Linked DNA regions of Homo sapiens: region 2 is linked to region 1. Evidence: fine-mapped expression QTL. A gene starts in region 1. The other region holds a variant in brackets. All regions are shown on one strand. Distances are between the middles of the regions. Region 1 holds the start of ZNF683 (zinc finger protein 683). Region 2 overlaps DHDDS (dehydrodolichyl diphosphate synthase subunit).

What was found. PIP is the estimated chance that this variant, and not a neighbour inherited with it, causes the effect. A credible set is the group of variants that fine-mapping cannot tell apart.
Region 2: its variant is the best candidate, but not a certain one, in a credible set for the expression of ZNF683 in pituitary (GTEx, PIP 0.77).

Annotation. Positions count from the first base shown.
Region 1 is chr1:26,368,197-26,383,778 of GRCh38, forward strand. ZNF683 (zinc finger protein 683) reads right to left here and starts at 4,554. Exons shown (of 6, transcript NM_001114759.3): 1 at 4,473-4,554; 2 at 262-389. The coding sequence starts at 375. RefSeq lists a cis regulatory region at 9,842-10,735 and an enhancer at 10,058-10,267.
Region 2 is chr1:26,447,851-26,463,432 of GRCh38, forward strand. It overlaps DHDDS (dehydrodolichyl diphosphate synthase subunit), which reads left to right. Exons shown (of 9, transcript NM_205861.3): 7 at 9,941-10,055; 8 at 12,187-12,294. It overlaps DHDDS-AS1 (DHDDS antisense RNA 1), which reads right to left. Exons shown (of 3, transcript NR_125953.1): 2 at 15,526-15,582; 3 at 14,906-15,020. It also overlaps the pseudogene RPL17P9. Among named protein-coding and RNA genes, the nearest start is that of DHDDS-AS1, 12 kb to the right of the region's middle. The variant C/T (reference allele first, on the strand shown) is at 4,057.

The DNA.
Region 1 (15,582 bases):
CCCAAGGCCATGGTCATAGCAGCCAAGCCTACTGCACGAGGCTTCCGCTTCTTATTCCCCACAGGAGAGTCTGGGCCCCTGAGGCATGGGGAGAGGGTGTCTGGCTCCTCAAAGAAACATCCCTATGATGTGCCTGGGATAGGGGGTGCTCAGACTGGGAAGGAGATCTAGGTCCCTTCAGACGTTCCCCTTTTTCCTCCTAATGTCACCTCCTACTATAAGCAGACTACCCACAAAGGTAAGGCTGGGGTTCTACCTTACCTGGTCACCTCGGAAGAGCTGGAAGTCCAGGCTGGGGGACAGGGAGCCCCCTGTACCTCCCAGGGCCATGGGCCTATGACAACAACCTAATTGTGCAGCTGATTCTTCCTTCATATCCCCATTACCTGCTGGGAAACAGGTGAGTTAGAGGTAAGCTGTGAAGGTCCTCCAAATAGGAGTCTGAGTTCTAGGACTGGCTCTCCCATTAACATGCTGCATGACCACAAGTTATTCATGTCCCTTCCTGGACTCAGTTTCCCTATCCGCAAAATGGGAAGGTTGGTCTAGTTGATGCGTAAGGATTCTCTCAATGTTGACATTTAGAAGCCAGTGATGCTCTCCTGGTGGGTGTGGGAAGATTAAATAGAGATTGGCCAGGTGCCGTGGCTCAAGCCTGTAATCCCAGCACTTTGGGAGGCTGAGAAGGAAGGATCTTTTGAGGCCAGGAGTTCTAGACCAGCCTGGGCAACATAGTGAGACCCCCATCTCTACAAAATAAAAAATATGGTGGGCGGGGTGGCTCAGGCCTGTAATCCCAGCACTTTGGGAGTCCAAGGCGGTTGGATGACCTGATGTCAGGAGTTCAAGACTAACCTCGGCAACATGGTGAAACCCTGTCTCTACTAAAAATACAAAAATTAGCCAGTCACGGTGGTGCATGCCTATAATCCCAGCTACTCAGGAGGCCAAGGCACAAGAATCACTTGAACCTGGGAGGTGGAGGTTGCAGTGAGCCAAGATCGTGCCACTGCATTCAAGCCTGGGCAACAGAATGAGACTCCTTCTAAAAATAAAATAAAATAAATAAAAAAATAAAAAATAAAAGGGAGACCCAGGCAGATGGATCACCTGAGGTCAGGAGTTCGAGACCAGCCTGGCTAACATGGTGAAACCCCCATCTCTACTAAAAATCCAAAAATTAAAATTAGACCAGGTGCGGTGGCTCATGCCTGTAATCCCAGCACTTTGGGAGGCTGAAGCGGGCGGATCACCTGAGGTTGGGAGTTCAAGACCAGCCTGACGAACATGGTGAAACCTCGTCTCTACCAAAACTACATAAATTAGCCGGGTGTGGTGGCGCACGCCTGTAATCCCAGCTACTCAGGAGGCTGAGGCAGGAGAATCGCTTGAACCCGGGAGGCAGAGGTTGCAGTGAGCCAAGATAGCACCACTGCATTCTAGCCTGGGTGACAGAGCAAGACTTTGTCTCCAAAAAAAAAAAATTAGCTGAGTGTGGTGGCTCACACCTGTAGTCCCAGCTACTAGGGAGGCTGAGGCAAGAGAATCGCTTGAACCCAAGAGGCGGAGGTTGCAGTAGCCGAGATCATGTCACTGCACTCCAGTCTGAGCAACAGAGTGAGACTCGGTTCAAAAATAAATAAATAAATTAGCTGGGTGTAGTAGCCTGTGCCTGTGGTCCCAGCTACTTGGGAGGCTGAGGTGGGAAGATTGCTTGAGCCTGGAAGGTTGTGGCTGCAGTGAGCTGAGATCACACCACTACACTCTAGCCTGGGCGAGGATAGAGCAAGACCCTGTCTCAATCAATCAATCAATCAATCAATCAATGGAGATTAGCCAATCAGAAGTGAAGAGCAGAGCTCTCCTGAGAGGAGAGGAAGGCCCTCACGGAGCTTACTTCCAAGTAAGTGCAGAGATCTGAGGGAACATTCCAGATTCCTCAGGGCTACAAAGAAGCCACCCCCTTCTGTGCTGAGAGGGGTCCCTGACTCTACCAACCAGAGGCCCCCCACCAAGGGGAATCCTGCATCCTAGCTCACCCAGATAGCTCTTCTGGACAGCTGAGGACACCTCAGTGTCGTGTCACCCAGGCTGCCCAGCTCAGCGCTCTCACCAGGAATAAAGCCTGAATGAGTGGACCAAGCCCCCGGATGCCCCTGACTGGCCTGACAGAGAGACGCGAGTGCCCAGCTGTCTGCTCATCCAGCACCAGGCTTCTCTGCCATCTTCCACCTGAGGCCACACAGCACAGGGAACACTTCAGCCCAGCAAATGCCCCAAGACCCCTTCCCCGTCACCTCAGGGACCACTCTTTGAATCCCAAATGCCCCTCAGACCCTAAGACCCTCACTCCAGTGTCTCAGCCCTCTAAAACCCCTTCTCCTTTCCCTCTTTCCTCACTCCTCCCAACGCTGCTTCAGGTCTCAAAGCAAATACCATGGACCCCCGAAGGGCTGCTGGCTGTGGGGCTCTCCACTCGGTGCTGCAGCAGTGCTCCTGGCTGGGAAGGAAGGAGGTGGGCAGCCAGGCCACAGCTGCCTGTGGCTGAGGCCCCAGTGGGAGTGAGAGATGGCAGGAAGGTGTTACATTTGAAGTTGCCACAGATAGGAAGTGGGGGCAGGCAGGCTTGGGGGCCCTGCAAGGTCTGACAAGGGGGCACTATCCACTCAGCTTTGCCTACCTGTGGCAACTCTGGAGGACAACCTGCTGATGTGGATTGCAGTGAACTGGGGCTACTGGAATTTCAGGATGTGTGTGTGAGGGGGGCGGGCTGTTATTTCTGTTCTCAAAGTACCCAGATGGCTGGACGGGAGGACAGAGTAGGGCTCAAAGGCTGAACAGGGGAGCCTTCTGTGGAGGGGAGCCAAGCTGAGATGAAGATAGGCATTGATGATGACAGGGAGACAGTGATGGTGACAGGTAGGGACAGGAACAGGCAGAGACAAGAACAGGCAACATAGAAGGATATGGAATGAGACAGAGGACAGAGAAGGCAGCTGATCTCACAGAGATACAGCAAACACGTTTTCCTCCTCCAAGTCCCATCTCAGATCTCCTGACCCTGGAAAGTTCTATCCTCTAATCTAGAGGCCCCAAGAGGCAAAAGATAATTCAAGCACATGGCCAGGTGAAGTGGCTCACATCTGTAATCCCAGCACTTCAGGAGACCAAGGCAGACCCATCTCTTGAGCCCAGGAGTTTGAGATCAGCCTGGGCAACAAAGCAAGACCTCATCTCTACAAAAAATACAAAACTTAGCTGGGCATGGTGACTTGCACCTCTGGTCCCAGCTACTCAGGAGGCTGAGGCAGGAGGATCACTTGAGCCCAGGAATATAAGGCTGCAGTGAACTAGGATATTGCCACTGCACTCTAGCCTGGGTGACAGAGAAAGACCCTGTCTCTTTAAAAAAAAAAAAAATAGACATAGCAAAATGGGTGTAAGGCATGACTAGGCCAGGTGTGGTGGCTCACATCTGTAATCCCAGCACTTTGGGAGGCTGAGGTGGGCCAACTGCTTGAGCCCAGGAGTTCAAGACCAGCATGAGCAACATGGTGAAACACCATCTCTACAAAAAATACAAAAATTAGCCAGGCATGGTAGCGCATGCCTGTTGTTCCAGCTACTCAGGAGGCTGAGGTGGGAGGATCACTTGAGCCAGGGAGGTCGAGACTGCAGTGAGCTGAGATCATGCCACTGCACTCCAGCCTGGGTGACAGAGCGAGACCCTGTCTTAAAAAAAGTTAATAAATAAGGAAAAGACATGTCTAGATACAAAAAGGGAGACCTCATAGGCCAGAAAGTGGCTTTTTAGCCTGAGCAATGTCATTATTCTTGTGAGCATGAGAAGAGGCATCACCCCTGCGGCCTTACACAAATTCTGGTGTGCGTGAGTCTGGCCCAGGGTGCAAAAGCCCCAACCAGCCATCAATCTGCACCCCAGCCACGCCACCCTGGTGTCCCAGAATATACAGGGACATCTCAGGCTGTGCACCATGGGCTGGGGCATGTTCCTGGGGTTTCTCTGCCAGCTCAGCCCCTAGGGCTGTGACTCATCCTCCACATAACTGATCCCAACATGTTTGTGAGCATCTCAAGGACAGGGTCCTCTGTCTACTCATTTTGGTTTTCCATGTAGACATCTGTCAGGTTTTTTTGGACGCCCAGCCTCTGAAACTTTTCCCCTACATGAGTCTTGAGGGAGGCAAAAGGTACCTCCCATTATAAAAGCCGAAATGGCCAAATACTTAATTCCAACCTCCCTCACCAGCACTTCATGCAGGCATACATGGACTAGGTCGATCAGATGTCCCCACCCAGAAGGGGTGACCCGCACACCTTTGGCTTCCATCTGCCAGCTCTGCCCTCTCCTGGCATCACACTCTGCTCCCAACTCTCAGAACACCTTGCACAACTTCTCTGTTAGAAAAAAATAAAAACTACTTCCCCTCTATCCGCACTTCCCAACCTACTCTGGTGATCATGGGCTTTCCTTGGCTTGGGTCTCTGGTCTGGGTCAAGGCATCTGCTCAGGTTCCTCAGTTAGAAGACCATGGTCCTCCCTTTGTGCTACCTCCCCAGGGCATGTGGGACAAAGTGACATCACATTTAGGCCTGTGACATCACAGGGCATGGAGGCTGACAAGACAGATGATCTGGGAGACGAGAGCAAGGAAGGGCTTGGCAGGCAGAGGCTGCTCCATGTGGGAACCTGAGGGAGTCTGTCTTAGCCCACCTCCTGGGACATTTCCTTGCCAAGCCGAGTCTTGTGAGCATGAGAAGAGGCATAACCCCTGTGGCCTCACACAAATTCTGGTGTGCGTGAGTCTGGCCCAGGGTACAAAAGCCCCAAGCAGCCATTAATCTCCACTGCAGCCCAGTAGACTAGCAGATCAGAAGCTAGTGCCACTGGCTGAGCGCAGTGGCTCACGCCTGTAATCCCAGGACTTTGGGAGGCCGAGGCGGGCAGATCACTTGAGGTCAGGAGTTCAAGACCAGCCTGGCCAACATGGTGGGACCCCATCTCTACAAAAATACAAAAATTAGCCAAGTGTGGTGGCACGTGCCTGTATTTCCAGCTACTTGGGAGACTGAGGCAGGAGAATTGCTTGAACCCGGGAGGCGGAGGTTGCAGTGAGCTGAGATGGCTCTGCTACACTCCAGGCTGGGCAACAGAGTGAGGCTCCATCTCAAAATAAAATAAAATACAATAAAAAAAGCCACTGGTCCTGAGGTGGCAGGTCTGTGGAAACTCCTCTCTACAACAAAGGCTGTGGTACCACATCCGGCTTCCAGGGCAGTGAAGGAAAGAAGGGGGTTCAGGGGAGGCTGCAGAATCTGTGCAGGGCTGGTCCTGGGGTGTGATATTTGGCCATGGTCCTGTCTACTTCCAGCCTCCCTTGATCCATCCTATTCTCCAAGCCTTGCTCTCCAGCCTTCTCAGACCTCCTGCGAGCTTTTCTAACATCTTTTAAACAAATTCCTTCTGCTTAACTCCTCCTGAAATGGTTTTTGTAGCTTACAACTGATAATTCTGCATTATACATGCCCAGAATAGAAGATAAAGTAACAGGGTTCCAGCTGGAATTGTCCAAGGAACAGAGTAAATAGCCACCTTTACAAACAGCTTTCTTGCTGTGTCTGGCACTGTGCTAGGGGCTTCATAAACTTTATCTCATTTAGTCTTCACAATAAGCCTGTGTGGTGGATTTTATTATTAGCAGCTCATCCAGAGTCACACAACAAGTAGCCAAGAGCTCTTTAGTGGTAAACCTCAGACTCTGCCATCTCTTGGCCATGTCAGCTTCCCCCACTACGACAGCCACCCCCTCATTTCTTTCTTTCTTGCTCTCTCTTCCCACATGCTGTTCCCAGTCCTTCCCCCAACTCCTCAGTGGCCCCCTCAGTATCCTTCAGCGTAATGGAGGGGCTTAGTTCACCAAAACTCTACTCCCTAAAAGGAAGAGCCCTCTCAGACCCCCAGGCCACAAGCCCGCCTCCCCTGCTGTCTTGCTGGGAATCACAGGGAAGTGAGGGGCACCGAGTGAAGTTTCCTCCCCTCCAAGGCACTTCCCCACACACCTTTGGCTTCCATCTGCCAGCTGTGCTCCCTCCTGGCATCACACTCTGCTCCCAGCTCTCAGAACACTTTGCACAACCTCTCTGTTAGAAAAAAATAAAAAAGGAAATGGCCTTGGAGATTTCCAGGTCTCCAATCCTGAAAGCTCCCTGGCTTGGCTAGGAAATGCCCCAGGAGGTGGGCTGAGGACAGACTCCCTCAGGTTCCCACGTGGAGAAGCCTCTGCCTGCCAAGCCCTTCCTTGCTGTCATCTCCCAGATCATCTGTCTTGTGTCATCCATGCCCTGTGATGTCACAGGCCTAAATGTGATGTCACTTTGTCCCACATGCCCTGGGGAGGTAGCACAGAGGGAGGACCATGGTCTTCTAACTGAGGAACCTGAGCAGATGCCTTGACCCAGACCAGAGACCCAAGCCAAGGAAAGCCCATGATCACCAGAGTGGGTTTGGGAAGTGCGGACAGAGGGGGAGTAGGGAGCTGACTCCAGGTGCAAGGGGCACATTCGGGAGGCCTCTGAAGAGGAGGTGCCTCCACATTAGGGGACAAGAGCTGGAGGGGCTGGGTCCTTGGGCTCCCGGTGCTCACTGCACACTTTCTTCTTCCTTTCGTTAGTTGCAAAATAATACATACTAGTGGTAAACATTTCAAACAACAGAAAATGTAAAAACGAAAAATGGAAGCTCCTCCTCCTTCGCAATTTCCCAGTGGTCAATGTGAATTGTTTAGTGTTTACCCTTCCAGACATTTTTCTATGAACCAACAAACAGGTAAATTGATTTTTTTAATTGCTTTTTTTTTTCCTAAGGAATGAAGTGACTTATTGAAAATGAAAGTACACTCTGCAGTGTGGGAGCAGGCCTGAGCATAGGGGCTCAAAGGCCCCATTACAGAGTTTTTGAGAGTTTAAATACCTTCTGCTTGTGGTACGCCCTATGTAAATGAAGAGAATGAAGTAAAGTTACAATGTCATGTACTCAGGGAGAAGCTATTTCCTGTCAGAGCTGAAGTGTGAATTGGCCTTATGTTTCCTGCCTCCAGCCCCTATTTTCCTGCCTCATCTCCCCGCTAAGAGATGTGATTGTGGTCCCCGTAAATCTTCACGGGAGGCAGAGGGACCGATGGTCTTTTTCCTGGGACTGCTTCATGCTGGCATGGGGCGTAGTCCCTACTTATTGGGGATCATGGAACCCTCACCTTGTTCTGTCTAGTGGAGGCAGGGTAGCTTCTTGATGGCCAGGGGTGGTGTCTTCACCTGGACTGGCTGGAGCCTTTGTTGCATGATCATCTGAAGCTTGATGGCCTCCTTTTGCTGGTATGCCAGGTTTCTGGGCTCTCTTTCCCTGAGCGGCCCTTCCTCCGGGCTGGCTGGCCAAAATATGTCACTGGTGGGGGGTGTCCAGGTTCTTGGCATCTTGAACAAAGAATTGGACAAAAAGCAGAAACAAAGCAACGAAGAAATGAAGGGATTTATTGAAAATAAAGTACACTCCACAGTGTTGGAGTGGGCCTGAGCATAGGGGCTGAAAGGCTAAATTGTGTTTTATACAAACATGGGAATATATTGATGCACATTGCTCTTCCGGGTTTTCTTTTCTTTTCTTTTCTTTTTTTTTTTTTTTGAGACAGAATCTGACTCTGCCTCCCAGGTTGGAGTACAGTGGTGTGATCTTGGCTCACTAGCAACCTCTGCCTCCTGGGTTCAAGCAATTCTCCTGTTCAAGCTGGGACTACAGGCATGCGCCACCAAGCCCAGTTAATTTTTTTGTATTTTTAGTAGAGACGGGGTTTCACCACATTGGCCAGGCTGGTCTCAAACTCCTGACCTCAAGTGATCCACCCACCTTGGCCTCCCAAAGTGCTGGATTACACTTTGGGAGCCACCATGCCCAGTCTCTTCTGGGTTTTCTAATAATCCATTGTGGGCATCATTTCATGCCCTGAACATACCTATCTGCCTCCTGCTTTTTCCTGACTATATAATGTTCCATTGCAGGGTTGTGCTTAATATGTAGCCTTCCCCTGTTGGTGGACATACGGGTGGGATCCAATTTTCCCCTTTCTACACAAGGCTGGAAAAGACCTCCAGACAGAGTCAGTATGCGGAATGGTTAAGAATACGAGCTCTGCTGGATTTAATCCCAACTGGGTAAACTTATGGCAAATCACTTAACCTCTCTGTGCATCTTTCCTCATCTGTCAAATGGAGATAATAATAGCACTTGCCTCATAGAATTATTTCCAGGTTTCCTCAAGATAATCCATGTAAAGCCCTTAGGATGGTGCCTGGCCCAAAGCAAGCACTTGACCAATGTGGATGACTATATTGTACATTACCCTTTACCTAGTTAGGCAAGCATCTGCAAGTCAGCTTCTTAAAAGTGTTAAAATTTTGATGGTTATTCCTGACCCATTTTGGAAGATCGAAATTTGGGCAGCACAATTGGAGAGATTAACTACATTTAGTTTTCTTGCTTTATTTATTGACCCTTCCCTGGTTGGGGATCATTGCTCTCATTCAATGCAGTCTTCTCCTACCCCATCCACACACCACAATAATAATAGCTCTTGGCATGGGAGCCCTCATTATATGCCAGGAACCATGCAAAGCCATTCCACACGCTTTGTCTCACTGGATCAGCAGAGTGACTCTGGGAGATGAATGCCATTATTCCCATTTTAGAGGCAAGAAAACTGACACTCAGATAAGGAAAATGACTCACTTAAGATCAGATGACCTGGCTGGGCGTGGCTCATGCCTGTAATCCCAGCACTTTGGGAGGCCGAGGCGGGTGGATCACCTGAGGTCAGGAGTTCAAGACCAGCCTGGCCAACATGGTGAAACTTTGTCTCTACTAAAAATACGAAAATTAGCCGGGCATGGTGGTGGGTGCCTGTAATCCCAGCTACTTGAGAGGTTGAGGCAGGAGAATCGCTTGAACCTAGGAGGCGGAGGTTGCAGTGAGCTGAGATCGTGCCATTGCACTCCAGCCTGGGAGACAAGAGCAAAACTCAGTCTCAAAAAAAAAAAACCAAAAAACACCACATGACCCCAAAGTGGAAAGCATAGAAACAGAGAGTAGAAAGGTCTTTACCAGGGGCAGGGGCCTGGGGTGTAAGGGAAATGGGAGATGAAGGTCAAAGGGTACAAAGTTGCAGTTACTTAGAATGAATAAGTCTAGAGCTGTAACATACAGCATGAGGATTATAGTTAGTAATATTATATAGTAGACATTTGCTAAAAGTAATTTTAGGTACTTTTACCGCACACACACACAAAAGGTAACTGTGAGGTGATGGATGTGTTAAATTGCTTGACTGTAGTAATCACTTTACTGAGCATATGTGTATCAAAACATCATGTTGTAGATCTTAAATATATACAATTTTAAAAGAAACACATGACCCAAGTTGAGGTTGTAAGTCCCAGAGGTGAGGGAGAGCTTAGGGAAGACTTTCCAGGCATTTGAAGAAGTAAAAAGTGCCACAAATATGTTTGGTAGAAGGGGCTCCCAGAAAAATTAAGACAAACAGAGGCCATCTTGAAACGAGCTGCAGAATTAGCATCTGGTACCCTGCAAGAACGTCATTCATTCACATATTTATTTGCCTTTTCTTTCTTCCTTCCTTTCTTTCTTTCTTTCTTTCTTTCTTTCTTTCTTTCTTTCTTTCTTTCTTTCTTTCTTTCTTGTTGTATTTTGGTAGAGACAGGGTCTGGCTGTGCTGACCAGGCTAGTCTCAAACTCCTGCCCTCAAACAGCCTCCCAAAGTAATTCACATATTTATTAATTACCAGCTATGTGTCAGGCATTGGACTATTTTCTGGGAATACAGCCCATAGAAATATGACTCAGACCTTGGAATTACATTCCGGCTATCAAGAAGCTTGCTGGATGTTGTGAAATGGAAAGTAATGTACATCTGAGCTTATTATTAGGAGGGTAGGGGCTGGAGGAGCAAAGTAGAACTGGGGGTGGGGTTGGCTGACTCATGCACCAAGAAAGGGAGACAACGGAACCACAGCCAGAAGCCCCACTTCCTCCCTGAAAACCTTAAAAACTTCTTCAACCCATATCCATTGCCACCTCCAACCTTGAGGCCAGCCAGCTGACTTCCCAGTCAGCTCAGCACATGGGTCCAGGACCTCTGTCACATGGACACTTTTGAGAGGCACCAGGTAAGGACCCCAGGTCAGGAAGGGATCTGGGACGTCACTGGCTTAGAGGTTAAGCAGCTGTAGGGTGTGCCTCCACAGGCAGAGCTGAGGGTGGGGCTGACAGTGCTCTTGCCTGGCTCTGCTCTGTGGTTGACACCTCCCTCCCTCTGCCTGACACCCACATGCTTATCTCCCCAGACAGCCCAGCTGTCAGTCTGTCAGATGCATTTGAGTTGGCCCTTGGCTTCACACCCCAAGGTGGGGAAGAGATCTTGAGTTAAGGCGTGCCTGCTCTTACATTTGCAGAAGGGGCCTACAGACACTCTTGCGTCTTCCCCTGCACCCATCTGTGACCTTCCAATCCTTCTGTGGGTAAAATTGCAGATGCATCTTCAAATGATATCCAAGGTCATGCCACTTATCCTCAACCATTCCAAGAGAATAGGAGACAAGAGGTCACCTTGCTTGGATTCAAATCCAGCAGAGCTAATGTAATCTGAGCCACTGTGCAAAACTGCCCACCATGTACATGTATGTCCTTTCCAGCCTGGTGTGGAACGGGGCAAAATTAAAGTCCACCTATATGTCTACCATTAGAGGAAAGCTACATATTATGTACATCCATGCATCAGAATACTATGCAGCCAGGAAAAAGCAGGAGGTAAATTTACTCAATGCCTCCTACATGCCAAATCTCTTTATGATCATCTTATTTAATCGTCCTCAAAATTCTCCAAGTTGGCCAGGCATGGCGGCTCACACCTGTAGTCCAAACAATTTGAGAGGCCAAGGTGGGAGGATAGCTTGAGCCCAGGAGTTTGAGACCAGCCCGGGCAACATAGCAAGACCCCCTTCCCTACAAAAAATAACTAGGCATGATGGCATGGGCCTGTAGTTCCAGCTACCTGGGAGGCTGAGGCAGGAGAATTGCTTGAGCCCTGGAGGTCAAGGCTGTAGTGAGCCATGATTGTGCCTGCCACTGCACTCCAGCCTGGGCAACAGAGTGAAACTTTATCTCAAAAAAAAAAAAAAAAAAAAAAAAAAACTCTCCAAGGTAGGAATTTTTAATGTCTCCATTTTATGGATGAGCAGACAAGACTCAGCAAGGGTATACCAGGTAGTATCAACTCAAATGCCTACAGTGGCCATGTAGTTAACATAAAGTGATCCAAGAATAAGTATGATAAAATTGTTTCCTGACACTCAGTCTTGGTTTCAAGCTTCCAACAGGGAAGGGTTGGGACTGAGGCAAACCAGAGAGCATGGTCCATTCTTAAAGATCAGCCACTACTCAGAATAATCAGGGGCCAGTGTTGCCAGTCTTCCAACTTTTCCAGAGAATCTGAAAATCAGGAGTTGTACATGAAATCTCCATATTTTTTAAAAGAATGGCTCCAATGTCTTTTTTTTTTTTTTTTTTTTTTTTTGAGACAGAGTCTTGCTCTGTCACCCAGGCTGGAGTGCAGTGGCATGATCTCCCTATTGGAGATCATGGAACTCTCACCCTGTACTGTCTAGTGGAGACAGGGTAGCTTCTTGATGGCCAGGGGTGGTGTCTTCACCTGGAACTGGCTGGAGCCTTTGTTGCATGATCATCGGAAGCTTGATGGTCTCCGCCTCCCGGGTTCAAGAGATTCTTCTGCCTCAGCCTCCCCAGTAGCTGGGAAGACAGGCACGTGCCACCACGCCCGGCCAATTTTTCTATTTTTAGTAGAGACGGGGTTTTGCCATGTTGGCCAGGCTGGTCTCAAACTCCTGACCTCAGGTGATCCACCCGCCTCGGCTTCCCAAAGTGCTGGGATTACAGGCGTGAGCCACTGCGCCTGGCTCTCCAATGTCTTAAAGTAATGTGTATGCCAATCAGAATAGGTCTGTGTGTCAGATTCAGCAGCCTCTGCCCAAGGTCCCAGAGCCTAAGACCTTTCCACATTTCTAGCTGTCTCCAAAGCCATGGCCTTGACTGTTTTCACTAAACACTTAAATAATGTCAAATCTTCACAAACTCTTCCAAAAAACAGAAGAGGAGAGAACATTTCCCAACTCATCCTATGAGACCAATATTACCCTGATATCAAAAAACAATGACAGGCTTGCTGCAGTGGATCATACCTGTAATCCCAGCACTTTGGGAGGCCGAGGCAGGAAGATTGCTTGAGCCCAGGAGTTCAAGACCAGCCTGGGCAACACGGTGAAACCCATCTCTACAAAAAAAATTTAAAAATTAAAAAAAAAAACAAAGATCATAAGAAAACTACAGACTAATATCTCTTGTGAGCACAAATACAAAAATCCACAACAAAATAGAAGCAAGCAGAACTCAACAACATATAAAAAGGGTTATACATCATGAGTGAGTGAGTTTTATCCCAGAAATGGTTTAACATGCAAAAATCAATTACTATAATATACTATGGCAGTGGAATAAAGGACATGATCATCTCAATAGGTGCAGGAAAACGATTTGACGAAATCCACCACTCCTTTTTGGGATAAAATACACTCACCAGGCCAGGTGCAGTGGCTCACGCCTGTAATCCCAGGACTTTGGGAGGTCAAGGTCGGTAGATCACCTGAGGTCGGGAGTTCAAGACCTGCCTGACCAACATGGAGAAACCCTGTCACTACTAAAAATACAAAATTAGCTGGGCATGGTGGTGCATGCCTGTAATCCCAGCTACTTGGGAGGCTGAGGCAGGAAAATCGTTTGAACCCGGGAGGAGGAGGTTGCGGGGTGAGCTGAGATCGTGCCATTGCACTCCAGCCAGGATAACGAGAGTGAAACTCTATTTCAAAAAAAAAAAAAAAGACGACTCACCAAACTGGGAATAGGGAACTTCCTCACCCTGATAAAAGGCTTCTACAAAAAGCACACAGCTAAGATTGAATTTAGGATGAGAGGTGAGTTGTTTTCCTCTTCAGATCAGGAATGAGACCATATCCACCCTTACCACTTCTATTCAACACTGTCCTAAAGGTTCTAGCCACGGCTACTAGGCAAAAAAAAAAAAAAAAAGAAAGAAAAAAAAAAAAGAAAAAAAAAGGCACCCAGATTAGAAATTAAGAGGTAAAACTGTTTGTATATACAGAGGACATAATCTTGTACATAGAAAATCCTGAGGAGGCCCGGCTCGGTGGCTCATGCCTGTAATCCCAGCACTTTGGGAGGCTGAGGCAGGTGGATCACCTGAGGTCAGGAGTTCAAGACCAGCCTGGCCAACATGGCAATAAAAATACAAATATTTACCGGGCACGGTGGCGGGTGACTGTAATCCCAACTACTTGGGAGGCTGAGGCAGAAGAATTACTTGAACCCAGGAGGCAGAGGTTGCAGTGAGCCGAGATCACGCCATTACACTCCAGCCTGAGCAACAAGAGTGAAACTCCATCTCAAAAAAACATAAAGAAAGAAAGAAAATCCTGAGGAATCCACAGAAACCTATTGAAACTAATGCAAGGTTGCAGGATACAAAACCAACAAATGGTGCTAAGAAAACAGAATACCTACATACAAAAAGAGTTGTATCCCTGGCTGGGTGCAGTGTGGCTCATGCCTATAATTCCAGCACTTTGGGAGGCTGAGGCAGAAGGTTCGCTTGAGCTCAGGAGTTTGAGACCAGCCTGGATAACATGGCAAAACCTCTTCTCTACAAAAAAAAATACAAAAATTAGCCGGGCGTGGTGGTGTGCGTCTGTACTCCCAGCTATTTGGGAAGCTGAGATGGGAGGATCACTTGGGCCTGGGAGGTCAAGGCTGCAGTGAGCTGTGGTTGGGCCACTGCACTCTAGCCTGGGCAACAAAGCAAGACCCTATCACAAAAAAAAAAAAAAAAAAAAAAAAAAAAAAGTTGTGTCGGTTTCTCTTATCATATACAAAACTAAACTCAAAATGCATCGTATACCTAAATGTAAGAGCTAAAACTCCAAAACTCTTAGGAGAAAATATGGGAGCAAACCTTTCAGACCTTGGGTTAGACAAAGCTTTATTAGACACAACACAAAAAGCACAAGCAACAAAAAATAAAGTAGGAAAATTGGATTTCACCAAAATTAAAAGCCTTTGTGCTTCATAAGATTCAATCAAAGGAAGTGTAGGATAGCTGTATATATATTTTTTAAAATAAAAATAAAATAGGCTAGGCATGGTGGCTCACTGAGCGAGACTTTGTCTCAAAAAAAACCAAATAAATAAAATAAATAAATAAATAAAATAAAGGAAAATAAGCATTGTTGGTGGCCGGGTGCGGTGGCTCACCCCTGTAATCCTAGAACTTTGGGAGGCCAAGGCAGGTGGATCACGAGGTCAGGAGTTCGAGACCAGCCTGGCCAACACGGTGAAACCCCGTCTCTGCTAAACATACAAAAAATTAGCTGGGTGTGGTGGCATGCGCCTGTAATACCAGCTACTTGGGAGGCTGAGGCAGGAGAATTGCTTGAACCCAGGAGGCAGAGGTTGCAGTGAGCTGAGATTGCATCACTGCACTGGGCAACAGAGACTCTGTCTTGAAAAAAAAGAAAAAGCAAGTGTTGTTGGCAAGGATGTAGAGAAATTGGAACTCTCATACATTGTTGGTGGAAATGCAAAATGGTCCAAGTGCTATGGCAAAACAGTTTGGTGGTGCCTCAAAGGTAAAGAATTAGCATATTCCACTTCTAGCATATACCCAAAATTGGAAACAGGTACTCAAACAAGCACATATGCATTCGTGTTCATAGCAACATTATTTGAAACAGCCCAAAAGGTAGAAACAGCCCATATGTCCATCAACAGATGAATGGATAAATTGTAGTGCATACATACAGTGGAATATTCATCCATAAACAGGAATAAAGTATTGATACATGCTGCAACGTGGAGAAACTCCAAAACATTATGCTAAAGCAAATAAACCAGACACACAAAAAGTCACAATTGTATGCAATTGTATGATTCTTTTTTTTTTTTTTTTTTTTTGAGATAGAGTTTCATTCTTGTTGCCCAGGCTGGAGTGCAATGGCGCGATCTCGGCTCACAGGAACCTCCGCCTCCTGGGTTCAGCGATTCTCCCGCCTCAGCCTCCCAAGTAGCTGGGATTACAGGCAAGCGCCACCACGCCCAGCTAATTTTGTATTTTTAGTAAAGACAGGGTTTCTGCATGTTGGTCAGGCTGGTCTCGAACTCCTGACCTCAGGTGATCCACCCATCTCAGTCTCCCAAAGTGCTGGGATTATAGGCTTGAGCCACCGTGCCTGGCTAATTTTGTTTTTGTTTTTTTTTTTTTTGAGATGGGGTCTCCCTTTGTCACCCAGGCTGGAGTGCGGTGGCACAATCATGGCTGCCTGCAGCCTCAACCTCCTGGGCTCAAGCAATTC
Region 2 (15,582 bases), 80 kb after region 1:
GGCCTGTACCAAACCATAAAGCCCCTCTGTGCCATGTACTTGGCCAGAGGTCTAATTAGGGGAGCATGTGGAAAGATTTAAGGGGATCTCCCAAATTTAGAGATTAGGATTGGCTTATTACAACCTGCTTCAGAACTAGAGTTCACCACACACCAAGAAACCCCAGAGAAAGAGCAAAGCAGATGACAAAGCCATGTTATTATTCCTTTACAAATTATACCCTCCTGGCCCTTTGGTAGTGTTTTTCCAAGAATGACTTTTCATGAATGCAGTTTGTTGGGGCTAGAGTTCTTTAGGTCTCTCATGTTCTAGTTCCACACAAGATTCAGGTGTTTTTCTTTTCTTTTTTTTTTTTTTTTTTGGTGAGGCAAAGTCTCACTCTGTTGCCCAGGCTGGAGTTGCAACCTCCACCTCCCAGGTTCAAGCAATTCTTCCGCCTCAGCCTCCCAAGCAGCTGGGACTACAGGTGCATGCCACCATGCCCAGCTAATTTTTGTATTTTCAGTCGAGACAGGTTTCACCATATTGGCCAGGCTAGTCTCGAACTCCTGACGTCGTGATCTGCCTGCCTCAGCCTCCCAAAGTGCTGGGATTACAGGCGTGAGTCACCATGCCCAGCCGATTCAGGGATTTTTCAAAAAGAAAATTATTAATTATTGTCAACATAGTGGAATCCTAATTATTAAAGGTGGAGAGACTTTTGAAGCCATTTAAATATTTGGTCCCTCTCATGTTATTATTTATGTAACTTTTAATATATTTGTAAACTAACAGCAATAGTAAAATAATAGTAGCAAAAAATAACCCAGGAGATGTGTTGTGTTCTGTATTTCATTAAGTCATTAACCTTATGTGTGAGAGATTCAAGGCTGTTGTCCATTGTGTAGATGAGAAAACTGAGTTCAGCATTGAAGTGACTTGCCCAGGGTCACTCTACTAGTAAGTGCCAGAGCTGGGACTCATATCTAAAGCTGTTTGATTTTAGGGTTCTTATCCTTTACCTCTATTATGTGGGATCTTGGGAAGCAGGAATTTTTCTGGTTCCCTTCCCGATTCGATTGACCTAGGAAACTAGATTAAAAATCAAAAAGTTACTTGGTGAGAATAGAATTAGATAAAAAGGAGAGGAGACAGTTTTTGAGGCTATTTTATGAATGCCTCTCCTTCCTAACAGCTGGGTGACATTTCTCTGTCACATAGTTCATTCATTCAACAAATATTTTATTTTTATTTATTTATTTTTATTTTTTATTTTATTTATTTTTTTGAGATGGAGTCTCGCTCTGTCTCCAGGCTGGAGTGCAATGGCGAGATCTTGGCTCACTGCAACCTCCGCTTCCCAGGTTCCAGCAATTCTTCCACCTCAGCTTCCCAAGTAGCTGGGATTACAGGCGCCCACCACCGTGCCCAGCTAATTTTTTGTATTTTTTAGTAGAGACGGGGTTTCACCATGTTGGCGAGGCTGGTCTTGAACTCCCAACCTCAAGTGATCTGTCTGCCTCAGCCTCCCAAAGTGCTGAGATTCCAGGCATGAGCCATCACTCCTGGCCCATTTTTATTTTTATTTTGAGACAGGGACTCACTCTATCGCCCAGGCTGGCGTGCAGTGGTGTGATCTCGGCCCACTGTAGTCTGTGCCTCCCGGGCCCAAGCAGTCCTCCCACTTCAGCCTTCCAAGTAGCTGGGACTACAGGTGTGTGCCACCATGCTCAGCTAATTCTTTTTTTGGAGACAGAGTCTCACTCTTGCCCAGGCTGGAATGCAATGGTACAATCTCGGCTCACTGCAACCTCCGCCTCCTGGGCTCAAGCGATTCTTCTGCCTCAGCCTCCTGAGTAGCTGGGATTACAGGGGCATGCCACCATGCCCAGCTAATTTTTGTATTTTTAGTAGAGACGGGGTTTCACTATGTTGGCCAGGCTGGTCTCAAACTCCCCACCTCAGGTAATCCGCCCACCTCGGCCTCCCAAAGTGCTGGGATTACAGGCGTGAGCCACCGCGCCCGGCGGTTTTAGACTTACGTTACAGTGGATAGTGGTGCCCTTCACCATGCTAGGTAACCCTGAGAGAAAATCCAGTTGAAAAGGGTCAGCAGTTTGGTTTTGGATATCCTGTACATGTTGAACAGAGATGTCAGGTCAACAGTTCAGCGAGGGATTGGTATAGTCAGGTCAACAGTCAGACAGAGATGTCAGGTCAACAGTTCAGACAGGGTTTATCTCTGTCGCCAGTATGGAAGCCATCTGTGTATAGGTTAACTTGAGCAAAGAGGGGATGAGAAAGCTAAGGAGAGTCTGTCTGTCTATCTGTGTATTTATCTATTTAGAGATGGTCTCACACTGTCTCCTGGGCTGGAGTGCAGTGGGGCAATCAAAGCTCACTGAAGCTTGGAACTCCTGGTCTCAAAGGAGCCTCTCAAGTACCCAGTACTACAGACGTGCACCACCTACCCAGCTAACTTTTTATATTTATTTTTTGTAAAAACAGGGTCTGACTTTGTTGCCCAGGATGGTCTTGAACTCCTGGCCTCAAGTGGTCTTCTTGCCCTGGCCTCCCAAAATGCTGAGATTACAGGTGTGAGCCACTCAGCCCTGCCTGTTAAGGAGTGTAGAGTGAGAAGAAGAAAGAGCCTAAGATGGCATTTTTGAGGAACTCTACCCTTTACTGGCTGGGTAGAGGAGAATAAGCTTTATAAGCAAAAACACAGAAAAGCAGGAAGAAAACCAGGGCAGCCAGCATTACATAAGCCAAGAAAAGAGGGAGTTTGTTGGTGCAAGTTGGGAAGGGGTAGGGCACCCATGGAAACAATGGTGTCAAATGCTGTAGAGAGGTCAATTAAGATGTAGAGTGAAAATCAGCTGTTGTTAAAACAATTAAGAGACTGGTGGAGTTAGCAGAGGTAGAGAGCAGGCAGGAAGATGAGACAGAAAAGGGGTATAGAAATAGAAGCATGTTTTCAATAAAATTCTTAGTTTGGAGGTACTTTCGTAGTTCATTATATTTTTGTGCTTTATAATGAATATGTTTCAAATATTCTTGTATGTATGAAATAAATATTAAGGCACAAGGGTTGACACTAGAATGAAAGAAAGCCATTTGACAAGCAGATCTAATATGCATTATGCCTAGGACTCTGATCTTGACTCCTAGTCCAGCATGCTTTACCCTCATACCACATTACAGTAACCACTACCTTATCTCCTGCTTCTTGTCCAGCAAGTTTTTCCATATCCTTCTCTGTCCTGCATGGTTTAGTAACTTGCCTCTGTGGGGTTAGTTATGCAGACAGGGTGTGGGTTGGGCAGTATCACCAGGGTCAGGAGGCCAATGTCTCAACCCACCAACTCCTGAAGCTTGGTGTGCTCAGACTGGGCTAATCAGGGCCTGAGGCGTTACACTTTATATTATTCGAATTTAGACAAACCTGCATTTATAACAAAGTCAGTGCGTTAATTACAATTAGGTCCTATGCTTCTAATAGCTGGAATTTTCCTGATTTCTCACTATCACCATCCAACTCCTCATTTTTCTTTCTTCCAGGGTATGTATGTAGATGTGTGTGTGTGTGTGTGTGTGTGTGTGTGTGTGTGTGTGTGTGTGTATTTTTGTTTTTTTGTTTTTCTGAGATGGAGTCTTGCTCTGTTGCCCAGGGTGAAGTGCAGTGGCACGCTCTCAACTCACTGCAACCTCCACCTTATAGGTTCAAGCAGTTTTCGTGCTTCAGCCTCCTGAGTAGCCAGGATTATAGGTGCACACCACCACACCCGGCTATTTTTTTTTCTTTTTTTTTTTTTTTGAGACAGAGTCTCGCTCTGTCGCCCAGGCTGGAGTGCAGTGGCACAATCTCAGCTCACTACAACCTCTGCCTCCCGGGTTCACGCCATTCTCCTGCCTCAGCCTCCTGAGTAACTGGGACTACAGGCGCCTGCCACCCCGCCTGGCTAATTTTTTTATATTTTTAGTAGAGACGGGTTTCACCATGTTAGCCAGGATGGTCTCGATCTCCTGACCTCGTGATCTGCCTGCCTCGGCCTCCCAAAGTGCTGGGATCACACC[C/T]GGCTATTTTTTGTATATTTAGTAGAGATGGGATTTCACCATGTTGACCAGGCTGATCTCGAACTCCTGACCTCAAGTGATCTGCCCACCTTGGCCTCCCAAAGTCCTGGGATTATAGGTGTGAGCCATAGCACCTGGCCTGTTTCGTTTTGTTTTTGAGACAGGGTTTCACTCTGTTGCTGAGGCTGAAGTGCAGTGGTATGAACATGGCTCACTGCAGCCTAGACCTCCTGGGCTCAAGAGATCCTTCCACCTCAGCTTCCTGAGTATCTGGGACCACAGATACTGCTACCACATCTGGCTAATTTTTTGACTTTGTAGAGACAGGGTCTTGCCATGTTGTCCAGGCTGGTCTCAAACTCCTGGGCTCAAGTGATCCTCCTGCCTTGGCCTCCCAAAGTGCTGGGATTACAGGTTTGAACCACGGCACCTGACCGAGGTATATATGTATTTTTTTAGCAGTTAAATTAATAGATTGTTTTGTGAGTCTGGAAATTATAGAAGAAGGAAGTAGATTGAGACCAAAGGATAGTTAATAAATTCTATTCCACCGTGTTACCTTGAACGGGCTACTTGATTCCCTGTAGGCCTCTGTCTTTCTTATAAAACAATAGTGTTAATAGTAATTGCTAACACTTACTGAGCATTTACTCTGTTCCAAGCATTAAGTATTCCACATACATTTATCCTTAGACCCTATAAGGTAGATACTGTTTTTATGCCCATTTTAAAGATGAGAATACTGAGACATGGAGAGGAAAAGTAACTTGTGCAAGTTCACATAGTTGGCAAACCTGGGGGCCAAGATTTCAACCTGGCTTCAGAGCCTGTGTTCTCATTCACTGTGGCATATTGACTTCCTCATAGCAAAGCTGAAATGAACAATAAGGCAGTAAAAAAGAAAAAAATTAGATGGACATGGTGACTTATGCCTGTAATCCCAGGACTTTGGGAGGCTGAGGCAGGAAAATCGCTTGAGCCCTGGAGTTTGAGACCAGCCCTGGCAACACGGCAAGACCCTGTCTCTACAAAAATAAAACAGTTAGCTGGGTGTGCTGGCACACACCTGTAGCTACTTGGGAGGCTGAGTGAGGAGGATTACTTGAGCCTAGCAGGTCGAGGCTGCAATGAGCTATGGTTGCGCCATTGCTCTCTAGCCTGAACAACAGAGTGAAACCCTGTCTGAAACACACACACACACACACACACACACACACTCACTTTTGACATAAATATTTATAACACATGAAATCACATAATGAATAGTTTACACTCTGAATCATGCTTTTATCATTCAATGTTACGAGTACTTTTCATGACCCGTGTTTTTAATAATTCTTCATATCATTATTTATAATGGCTGTAAAATATATCTTGTGTTAATTTCTTTAACCAGTCTTCTATTTGTTGGGTATATAGGCAGTTTAATATTTCATTATTACAAATAATGCCACAATTAAATCTTTGACTGAACTTGCCTGCATTTTTTATTGTTTCCTCAGGATCTGAGTTTGAAAGTGCTCATTTCACCTTATTCTTGCCAAGATTTTTTAAATGTAAACTGTTCTGACCAGGTGCAGTGGCTCATACCTGTAATCCAGCACTTTAGGTGGCTGAGGCAGGTTGGATCGCTTGAGCTCATAAGTTCGAGACCAGCCTGGGCAAAATGGTAAAATCTCGTCTCTAAAAGTACAAAAATTACCTGAGTGTGGTGGCATGCACCTATAGTCACAGCTACTTGGGAGGCTGAGGTGGAAGGATGGCTTGAGCCCAGGAGGCTGAGGCTGCAGTGAGCCAAGATCACATCACTGCACTCCAGTCTGGGTAACAGCCAGATCCTGTCTCAAAAAATAAAACAAAAAAATAAACCTATTCTCATAGGTAAAAACTGATATTTTACCGTTATTTAATGTAAATCATTTCCGAAAAGTCTTCACGTAGACAGCTTTAACTCACCATTCCATTTAGTGATGGATTTTTGTTGGCCAAAGTCTACAGATGTTCCATTTTGATTTTGTCAGTTTCATCTTTCCACCCTAGAGTTAACCCCTTTTTTTTTGTTTTTGAGATGGAGTCTTGCTCTGTCACCCAGGCTGGAGTGCAGTGGTGCAATCTCGGCTCACTACAAGCTCCGCCTCCCGGGTTCACGCCATTCTCCTGCCTCAGCCTCCCGAGTAGCTGGGACTACAGGCGCCCACCACCACGCCCGGCTAATTTTTTGTATTTTTAGTAGAGACAGGGTTTCATCGTGTTAGCCAGGATGGTCTCGACCTCCTGACCTCATGATCTGCCCGCCTCGGCCTCCCAAAGTGCTGGGATTACAGGCGTGAGCCACCGCGCCTGGCCAACCCCTTTGTTTTTTTGAGACACAGTCTGCTGTATCACTCAGGCTGGAATGCACTGGCACAATATCAGCTTTTTCCATTAAGAATTCTGCCCACTGCAGAATTCTTACTGCATACCTACTGCCTAAAGTAGGTAGAAGAAACTCTTTGCAGATAAATTGTAAACTCAGAGAGACTGAGTCTCTGAAGTCACACTGCAAGTTGGTGGGACTGAAAATAATTTTTTATTATTATTCTTTATATAGCACTTTATAGTTCCCAAAGTGCACTCAAATCTATTATTTCATTTGATTTGACCCTCATGATAACCTATAAGGTGGATAGGACAAATGGGCCCTGTTTTTTTTTTTCCCTTTTAATTACATTTATTTTAATGCTGAATTTACTCCTGTGCCATAAGTTTTTGTTTCTTCAGTTTCTTTGGGATATCATTTTCTTCTGGGCAACCTCCTCTTCTGGTTTAGGAACAATCTGTTCCTTTTCAGTAAGGATCATCTCAATGTGGCAGGGAGAGCTCATGGATGGGTTAATCCAACCATGAGCTCTGTAGGTCCAGCGGCACATCTTAGGTGCTTTGTTCACTTGGATATGCTCAATGACCAGAGAATCTACATTTAAACCCTTAAGTTCAGCATTACTCTCTGCATTTTTAAGCATGTGCAGCAAAAATTCAGCACTCTTTTTGGGCCACTGACCTTGTGTCCAGCCCCACTGCTTGGCCTGGGCACACCTGCCAGCTCCACCATTGTAACGTCGGAATGGTACGCACTGTTTCTGTAAAGTGACATCTTTCAGGTACTTCATGGCTTTTCGTATATGCATACCCTTGATGGCCTGGGCAGTTTCACGAATATTCTTAAAGTAAACACGAAGATTGGAACCTCTTGATTTGCATGATATCATGAGGTTCTCCGGGTTAAGTGAATAGTGAACCATTTTCACAGATTACCTCAGGCCGCTTAGGGAAAGAGCAAATGGGCCCATTTTAAAGATAAGAGAATGAGAAATTATATGGATTGTACAGAGTCTCACATAACTTGGAGAATTAAGACCATGCTGCCAAGACAAGATTGTCAGATTACCAGAGAAATCTGAACCAGAGCCCTTCTTATTGCTCAATTATAAGTGAATACTGTTTCCTCTGTGATGATGATACGGAAAAGAAAGCTCTCTCTGTGGTTTGCCTTAAAGGACTGAGAGAGATGAGCAACTTGGCTGGGTGCAGTGGCTCACACCTGTAATCCCAGCACTTTGGGAGGCCGAGGCAGGCAGATCACTTGAGCTCAGGAATTCAAGACCAGCCTGGCCAACATGGTAAAACCCCGTCTTTACTCAAAGTACAAAAATTAGCCGGGTGTGGTGGTGGCTGCCTGTAGTCCCAGCTACTTGGGAGGCTGAGGCAAGAGAATCACTTGAACCCGAGAGGTGGAGGTTGCGGGAGCCAAGATTGCGCCACTGCACTCCAGCCTGGGTGACAGCGCAAGACTCCATCTCCAAAAAAAAGATGAATAACTTGCCTAAAGACACACAACTAGTAAGTGTAGAGTCTGGTTTTGAACACTCAGCCCAGATCTTTCTGCTTTCCTGACCATGCGTCCAGAAACATGTTCCCACCAAGAAATTTTTGTCTTCTGGACCCTTTCCAAGATGTAACTCTAACTACCTGGACATTCTGAATTCTGCTTCTGGGTAGTTGGTAGGACAGGTAAACAGCATTCTTGGAGCCAACAGACACCAGCCATGCAAATACCCTCTTTCTGTGGACAGGATAGTTTTACTTAAGATAAATGCTTCCACTCACCAGTTTTCTTCAATTCTATCTCCTTTCTGACCATCTCTGTGCTTGGGAAAGTAGCTCTTATCAAACACAGGAGAACTGATCATATTGCTGTTTATTTAAAATCCGGTGTAATGTGGAATTTTTGCAATGTTTCAGGATCCATATGACTTAAATAAGATTTTAAAAATAAATTAGCTGAGCATGGTGTTGCACACCTGTGGTCCTAGCTACTTGGGAAGCTGAGGTAGGAGGATTGCTTGAGCATGGAAGGTGGAGGTTGCAGTGAGCTGAGATCACACCACTGCACTCCAGTCTGGGCAACAGAGGGAGACCCTGTCTGGAAAAAAAATAAAATATGTTTTCTGTTTTTTTTTGTTTTGAGACAGAGCCTCGCTCTGTCACTCAGGCTGGAGTTCAGTGGCATAATCTGGGCTTACTGTAACCTCCACCTCCTGGGTTCAAGCGATTCTCCTGCTTCAGCCTCCCAAGTAGCTGGGACTACAGGCATGCGGCACCACACCCAGCTAATTTTTGTACTTTTGGTAGAGATGGGGTTTCACCTTGTTGGCCAGGCTGGTCTCAAACTCCTGATCGCAGGTGATCTGCCTGCCTCAGCCTCCCAAAGTACTGGGATTACAGGCATGAGTCACCACGCCTGGCCAAAAAAAGTTATTTACATAAATTCAAACAATAACAGAAGTACATAAAGTAAAAAGAAATAGTCTTTTCTTCCTTACTTCTTATCCAATCCACTGTTAATAGTATGATGTATCTTTTTAGACTTTGTTCTTTATGTATACTTATATGCACGTGTGAATGTTTGAATGTGTGTGTATGTTTTATACTATATATTCTCTGAAACTTGCCTTTTACATTTAACATTAGATTTTGGACATCTTTCCAAATCAGTGCATTTAGATTTATCTTTATTTTTAGAATGCAGTTGCATAGTATTTCATCAAATACTGGGCCATAGGATGTATGTATGTATTTTAAAAAACAAGATGTTTTTAGCAAAAGACAACAGATATTTTTGTGGGTGCATCTGGTTTTAGGCCTGAGGCTAAATGACTTTCAGCAAATTATTCATCTTTGAGCCTCAGTTTCCTTATCTATAAAATGAGGATAGAAATACCTTATGTATCTGCTGAGCATGGTGGCTCATGCCTGTAATCCCAGCACTTTCAGAGGCCGAGGGGGGGGCGGATCACGAGGTCAGGAGATCGAGTCCATCCTGGCTAACATGGTGAAACCCTGTCTCTACTAAAAATACAAAAAAAAAAAAAAACAAATTAGCAGGGTGTGGTGGCGGGCACCTGTAGTCCCAGCTACTCGGGAGGCTGAGGCAGAATGGCATGAACCTGGGAGGCAGAGTTTGCAGTGAGCCGAGATCGTGCCACTGCACTCCAGCCTGGGGAACAGTGTGAGACTCTATCTCAAATAAATAAATAAATAAATAAATACCTTATGTATCAGAACATGTCAAAAAAGGCAAAAAATAAAAAAGAGAAAAGAATTTTACATTGTATTCTCTAAAAAAAAAAAAAAAAAAGAAATACCTTATGTAGTTGTGAAGATTTAAATTCATTCATTAATTTAGCAAACATTTTTTGAGGGCCTTCTGTGTAGTATTGGCTAGTGTATTTGATGGTATTGTATAAACTGAGAAGCCTATATATGGAAGTTCACCATGAGAACACTACAGAAAGAGAATACTACAGGATGTGTGCCTCTCTTTGTCTCTTCTTGCTCATCTTAGTGATATCTCTGAGTCTCTGCTTGATAAGTGCCTCTATACCAACCGCTCTCCTCATCCTGACATCTTGATACGGACTTCTGGAGAAGTGCGGCTGAGTGACTTCTTGCTATGGCAGGTAGGTCATTTCCAAGTACTATTATGTTTGTGTCATGGGGAAACCAACTGTATCCACAGAATGGATCAGAGTGGTCCATCCCCACTCCCAAACAGGCTGGGGCCAGAGTACTTCTGGGGAAAGCTAAAATCTGGAGAAGCATCTCTAGGCTGTGTCTCATAATATTTGATGTCCATTCCTCATCTGTCGCTGGCTTTGCGAATCCAACTATAGTGAAAACTTCATTGTGCCGCTTTTCAAGGAATGGGACTTCTGTCTTGCATCCCTGAGCGTAAGCTCTTGCCTTGGTAACCTGCCAGGGACCCTAGCCCCTCTGGGTTGGAAGCTTGCCTTGCAGTTACTAGTCCCTCCCCTTCAGGATAAAGGGCCATACCTATGCAAGCATGGTAAACAATATGCAAACACTCAAGTCTCTATCCCCTGTTAACTTGGTCCCTGGAGAGCACATAACTAGGGGAAGTCCTTGTTCTGGGAGAGACTCCATTTGGAAGCAGCTCACATGATAAAGCTCCAGAAATTTTAATGGACCACAATCTTAAAAGTGAGCTAACGCAGGGCGTGGTGGCTCACGCCTGTAATCCTAGCACTTTGGGAGGCTGAGGCAGGCAGATCACTTGAGGTCAGGAGTTTGAGACCAGTCCAGCCAACATGGTGAACCCCTGTCTCTACTAAAAATACAGAAATTAGCCTGGCATGGTGGCAGGTGCCTGTAGTCCCAGCTACTTAGGTGAATGAGGTGGGAGAATCACTTGAACCTAGGAGGCAGAGGTTGCAGTGAGGCGAGATCGTGCCACTGCACTCCAGCCTGGGCAACAGAGTGAGACTCTGTCGCAAAAAAAAAAAAAAAAAAAGAAAAGAAATAAGTACAATGTGCACCTATTGGTTCTGTGGCCCACTGTGCTGCTCAGATCACGTTTGGGAAGTTTACTGATGGGCTGAATTTTAAGAGACTACAGAGTCAGTTACTCAGTGTACAGAATTAGTTACATTGACAAACTTGAGGACTTACTGGAAGAGGCCAAACTGGAAAGCAAGGAATCTCATGTCTTACAAAAAATGAGGAAAGGATAGTGGTCTGCAAAAGGGAAATAAGTGACAATGTATTCCCTTGGAAAAAAGTGTTGAGTTCCTTCTTTATGCTGGAAATATGGCAGTGAGTGAGTCAGAAATGATCCCTACTGTCTTGAAACTTATAGTTTGCTAGCAAAGACAAACTCTGAACAAGTCATTACAACTTTGGGAACTGATAACAGGCAGCTCTAATCTAGCCTTGAAATACTTGAAAGAATGTCACTTTGAAGAAGAAACAAACTTGTTCCAGAAAAAATACCTGGGACCTTAGTAGAAGTTGTAGGGAAGGTGACATTGGTTTAGCATAAAAAGCCAAACAGGCTATCGGACAACTAGTTATCCCCCATGAGGTACTGAATTCCTCACCACTAGAGATATCAGGCAGTGGCTGTCAAGAGTGTTCCAAAGGGGATTCTTCATCAGTGATTATTATTAAAGTACACCTGGCTCTTTGCTATGCATATGTTATCTCATTTAATCTAAACAGTACCCTGAAAATTAGGTATTCCTATTATCCAGTTTTACATTTGAGGAATCTCAGGCCAGGTGAAATTACCCCTGCTCAAATAAATGGTAAATGGTTGGAGCCAAAATTCAAAGCCAGGCAGTCTGGCTCCAGAGCTCATGCTCTCAACCACTGTGCCCTGCTGCTGGTACTTAAAAATAACAATGGCAGCTACCATTTGTTCATTGGTGACCTTTATCAGACAGTATGTCTTCCAGATGCCCTCTAAGGGCCAAGAGCCAATAACATAATCCAGATGTTATTTCATAGTCCTAAAATTGGCTCTTAGAAAAATCCTGGTGGAAATGTTGATCTAGTCTCGTTTTAGTTCTGCTTTACCACAGGCAGGTGATCTGGCTGCCTCAAGTGACGCCTCCCCCTACTAGTGAATGAATCAGGGCCAGCAGCAGCTGCAGCTACAGCTCAGGATGCCTGTAACATTGTCATCTCTGGGCTTCTGGGTCCTGCTTAGCCTGCTTTTTCCCTGGAGGACTGACCAGGGATGCGGCCCAGCAACATGTTACTAAATCATACTCTCCTCCCTACCTTTCCCAGACCTCTCACTCCTGCCTGGTGTTCCAACCCGTTCTGTGGCCAGAGTATACATTTTGGAACCTCTTCGAGGCCATCCTGCAGTTCCAGATGAACCATAGCGTGCTTCAGGTAAGAAAGAGTTCAGGGCTGGCCAGATGGGATGGGATGGAAGAAAAGATTAGCATTGATTGACAACCACCTTACTATATACCAGGCACTTCCTAATAAGATGATGATAATGATGATAGTAGCTACCACCTACTGAGTATCTACTACTTGTCAGGCACTGCGAACATTTTACATGCTGCAACTCATTTAATGTTCCCAAGAACCCAATGAGGGAAGTCTTATTAGCCCCTCCCTTATGTAAGTAAGCAAACAGAAATGATTTAGTTAAGGACACATAATCAGTAAGAGGTAGGAATAGGATTTGAGCTACAGGTCTTTTATCTTTTAAAGACTCAGGAGGAAAAGGCTTCTCAGAGAAACTGGCCATTATTCCTTTAAAGTATTACCCTAATAAAAGATCGTAGCAGTAGGGATTAAGAACTAAATAGCATTGTCTTTCCATTGTGTAAACCTATGTTGTGTCAAGACTTGAAGTTTGACTTTCAGTTTTCATCACCAAATCTTGAAACAGGTTTTATTAGCAGTCACCTGTATATGATTAGGTCTCTTTATAATAATGGTAGTGGTAGCTAACATATGAGGATCTACGAGGGCACTTAGGTGATTTCATGTAAGTTTTCTTATTTAACCTAACAACCCAGCAGTTTTGGTGTCCTCATTTTTCATATATGGAACCAGAGGGGCAGAGAGACTTAAGTAACTGTCCCAAGGAACCTGAATTTTATCTTTATTTATTTATTTATTTTGAGATGGGGTTTTGCTCTTGTTGCCCAGGCCGGAGTGCAGTGGTGCGATCTGGGCTCACTGCAACCTCCCCCTCCTGGGTTTGAACGATTCTCCTGTCTCAGCCTCCCAACTAGCTGGGATTACAGGCACACGCCACCATGCCTGGCTAATTTTTGTATTTTCAGTAGAGACAGTGTTTCACCATGTTGGCCAGGCTGGTCTTGAACTCCTGACCTCAGGTGATCCGCCCACCTTGGCCTCCCAAAGTGCTGGGATTACAGGCGTGAAGAGCCTGAATTTTAAAATCAAAGCTGGTGCTGCTTCTTCAGTCTGGAGAGATAATGCCAGGAGGAAATAATGATGTGAGTCAGGGATTCTTAATCTCCTTGGTATTGGGGTCCCTTTGAATAATCTAATGAAAGCCACAGACCATCTCCCTAGAAAAATCGCAGATCACTCAAATGTGGAATTTTGCATAGAATTGTAAACTTATCATGGAAACACATAGAATACTTTTTTTTTTTTTTTTTTTGAGACGGAGTTTCGCTCTTGCGGCCCAGGCTGGAGTGCAATGGCGCAATCTCGGCTCACCGAAACCTCCGCCTCCCGGGTTCAAGTGATTCTCCTGCCTCACCCTCCCGAGTAGCTGGGATTACAGGCATGCGCCACCAATCCCAACTAATTTTGTATTTTTAATAGAGATGGGGTTTCTCCATGTTGGTCAGGCTGGTCTTGAACTCTTTACCTCAGGTGATCCGCCCGCCTTGGCTTCCCAAAGTGATGGGATTACAGGCATGAGCCACCAAGCCCGGCCACACATAGAATACTTTAAGGGGGTTCACATAACTGCTGAAATCTGCCCCTGAATCCCAAGTCCATAACTCCTGCTATAAGTAAATCAAATCACAAAGACTTGATCATGTATTTAATTACTTAGTCTCAGAATATGAGGAAATTAAAAGAAGTTTAGAATTAGTGAAAAGAAAAACAGCAAAGGCACAATTATCCACTGTCAGTGGGGAATGAATATCAGATTTTTCCATATGACCAAAGCTCCCTCTAAAAACTAAAACTTTACCCTTTTTTGATGGAAAAATTTCTAAAATGTATCTTGTACATAATTCATTGAAATCTATATACCAGGCACTTGCTAATAATGATGATGATTAGGATAATCACGTGCTATTTTTTGTTTTTTTTTTTTTTTAGCAGGGTCTCACTCTGTTGCCCAGGCTGGAGTGCAGTTGTGCAACTTTGGCTTACTTCAGCCTCCCAAGTAGCTAGGACTATGGGCACACACCACCATGCCTGGCTGATTTTTGTTATTTTTTGTAGAGATAAGTCCTCACTATGTTGCCCAGGCTGGTCTTGAACTCTTAAGCTCAAGTGATCCTCCTGCTTCGGCCTCCCCAGGTGCTAGGATTATAGACATGAGCCACCATGCCTGGCCGTCATATTCTAATGATTATGATAATAGTAATTATCATCTTTAAACACTTCATTGTACAACAATATCCTTGAGGGGTAGGGCTGTTTGCTCTAAGTTAGATGGTCCCAGAATACCTGGGTTTGAGGTTTCATGTATATTTTTCTGTGTCCTCCCTCTTTCATTTCCTACTGCTGTCAACAGTTAATTTTGACAGTATCTCTCCTCTTCCATAGTATTTACTGTTTTAAATCAGCTATAGACAAGGAAACCAGATAGTCAAGCTTGTTGGAATTATGTATATAAAATGAGAGTGAACTGGCTCTGCATGAAGCCCAAAGGAGCTTGGTGCATGAGTTTTTGTGTTTTTACCTCTAATTGGGCTGCTCAGAAGTCTTTTATAGTAATTTCACGTTTCTCAGATACTTTGCATATGGTTGTCAGAGGAGTTAACTCAAGTTTCATTCATTCCATAAGTATTTATTGAGTAGTATGAATCAGGCACTGTATTAGGCACAGGAGAGTCAACAGGTAGCCAGAGGGACAAGATCTCTACCTTTGTGGAACTTGTATTCTTGAGGAGACAGAAATAAACAAGTAAACAAATATATAAGTTCCGATTGTAATAAGGCAGTGAAGAATACAGAGTGATGTGCTAGAAAGTAATGAAGAGAATGCAAAGAGACTGAGGTTAAAGTTTGGGTCTTGGAAGAACAAAAAAGAGGTCAATGTGCCAAGGGAGAAGGGCAGGAAATGAGGCTAGAGTCAGACCTTGGCTCATATAGAGCCTTGTAGGTCATGGTAACAAAGCTGAAGGACTTTAATCAGGGGATGACGGGATCTGAGTTGCATTTTGTAAAAATCATTCAGAATTTTCAACGGGCTGGAGTTAAAGCCAAGAGACAGAACTCCTGCAGTAGTCCAGGTGAGAGAGGATGCGCCTCGAGGTAGGGTGGTGGCAGTAGGGAAGGGGAGGAGTGAAGACGGGATAAAAACAAATGTTGAAATAGAAACAAGTGAAACTAGCTATATCAAGGTGATAATATAACTCCCCAGAGAAAGGAATTAATTCAGCTTACCTGAACACAGTTCTCTGCTATTCATCTTTAGTGGAATTTCTTTTCAGGATAATACAA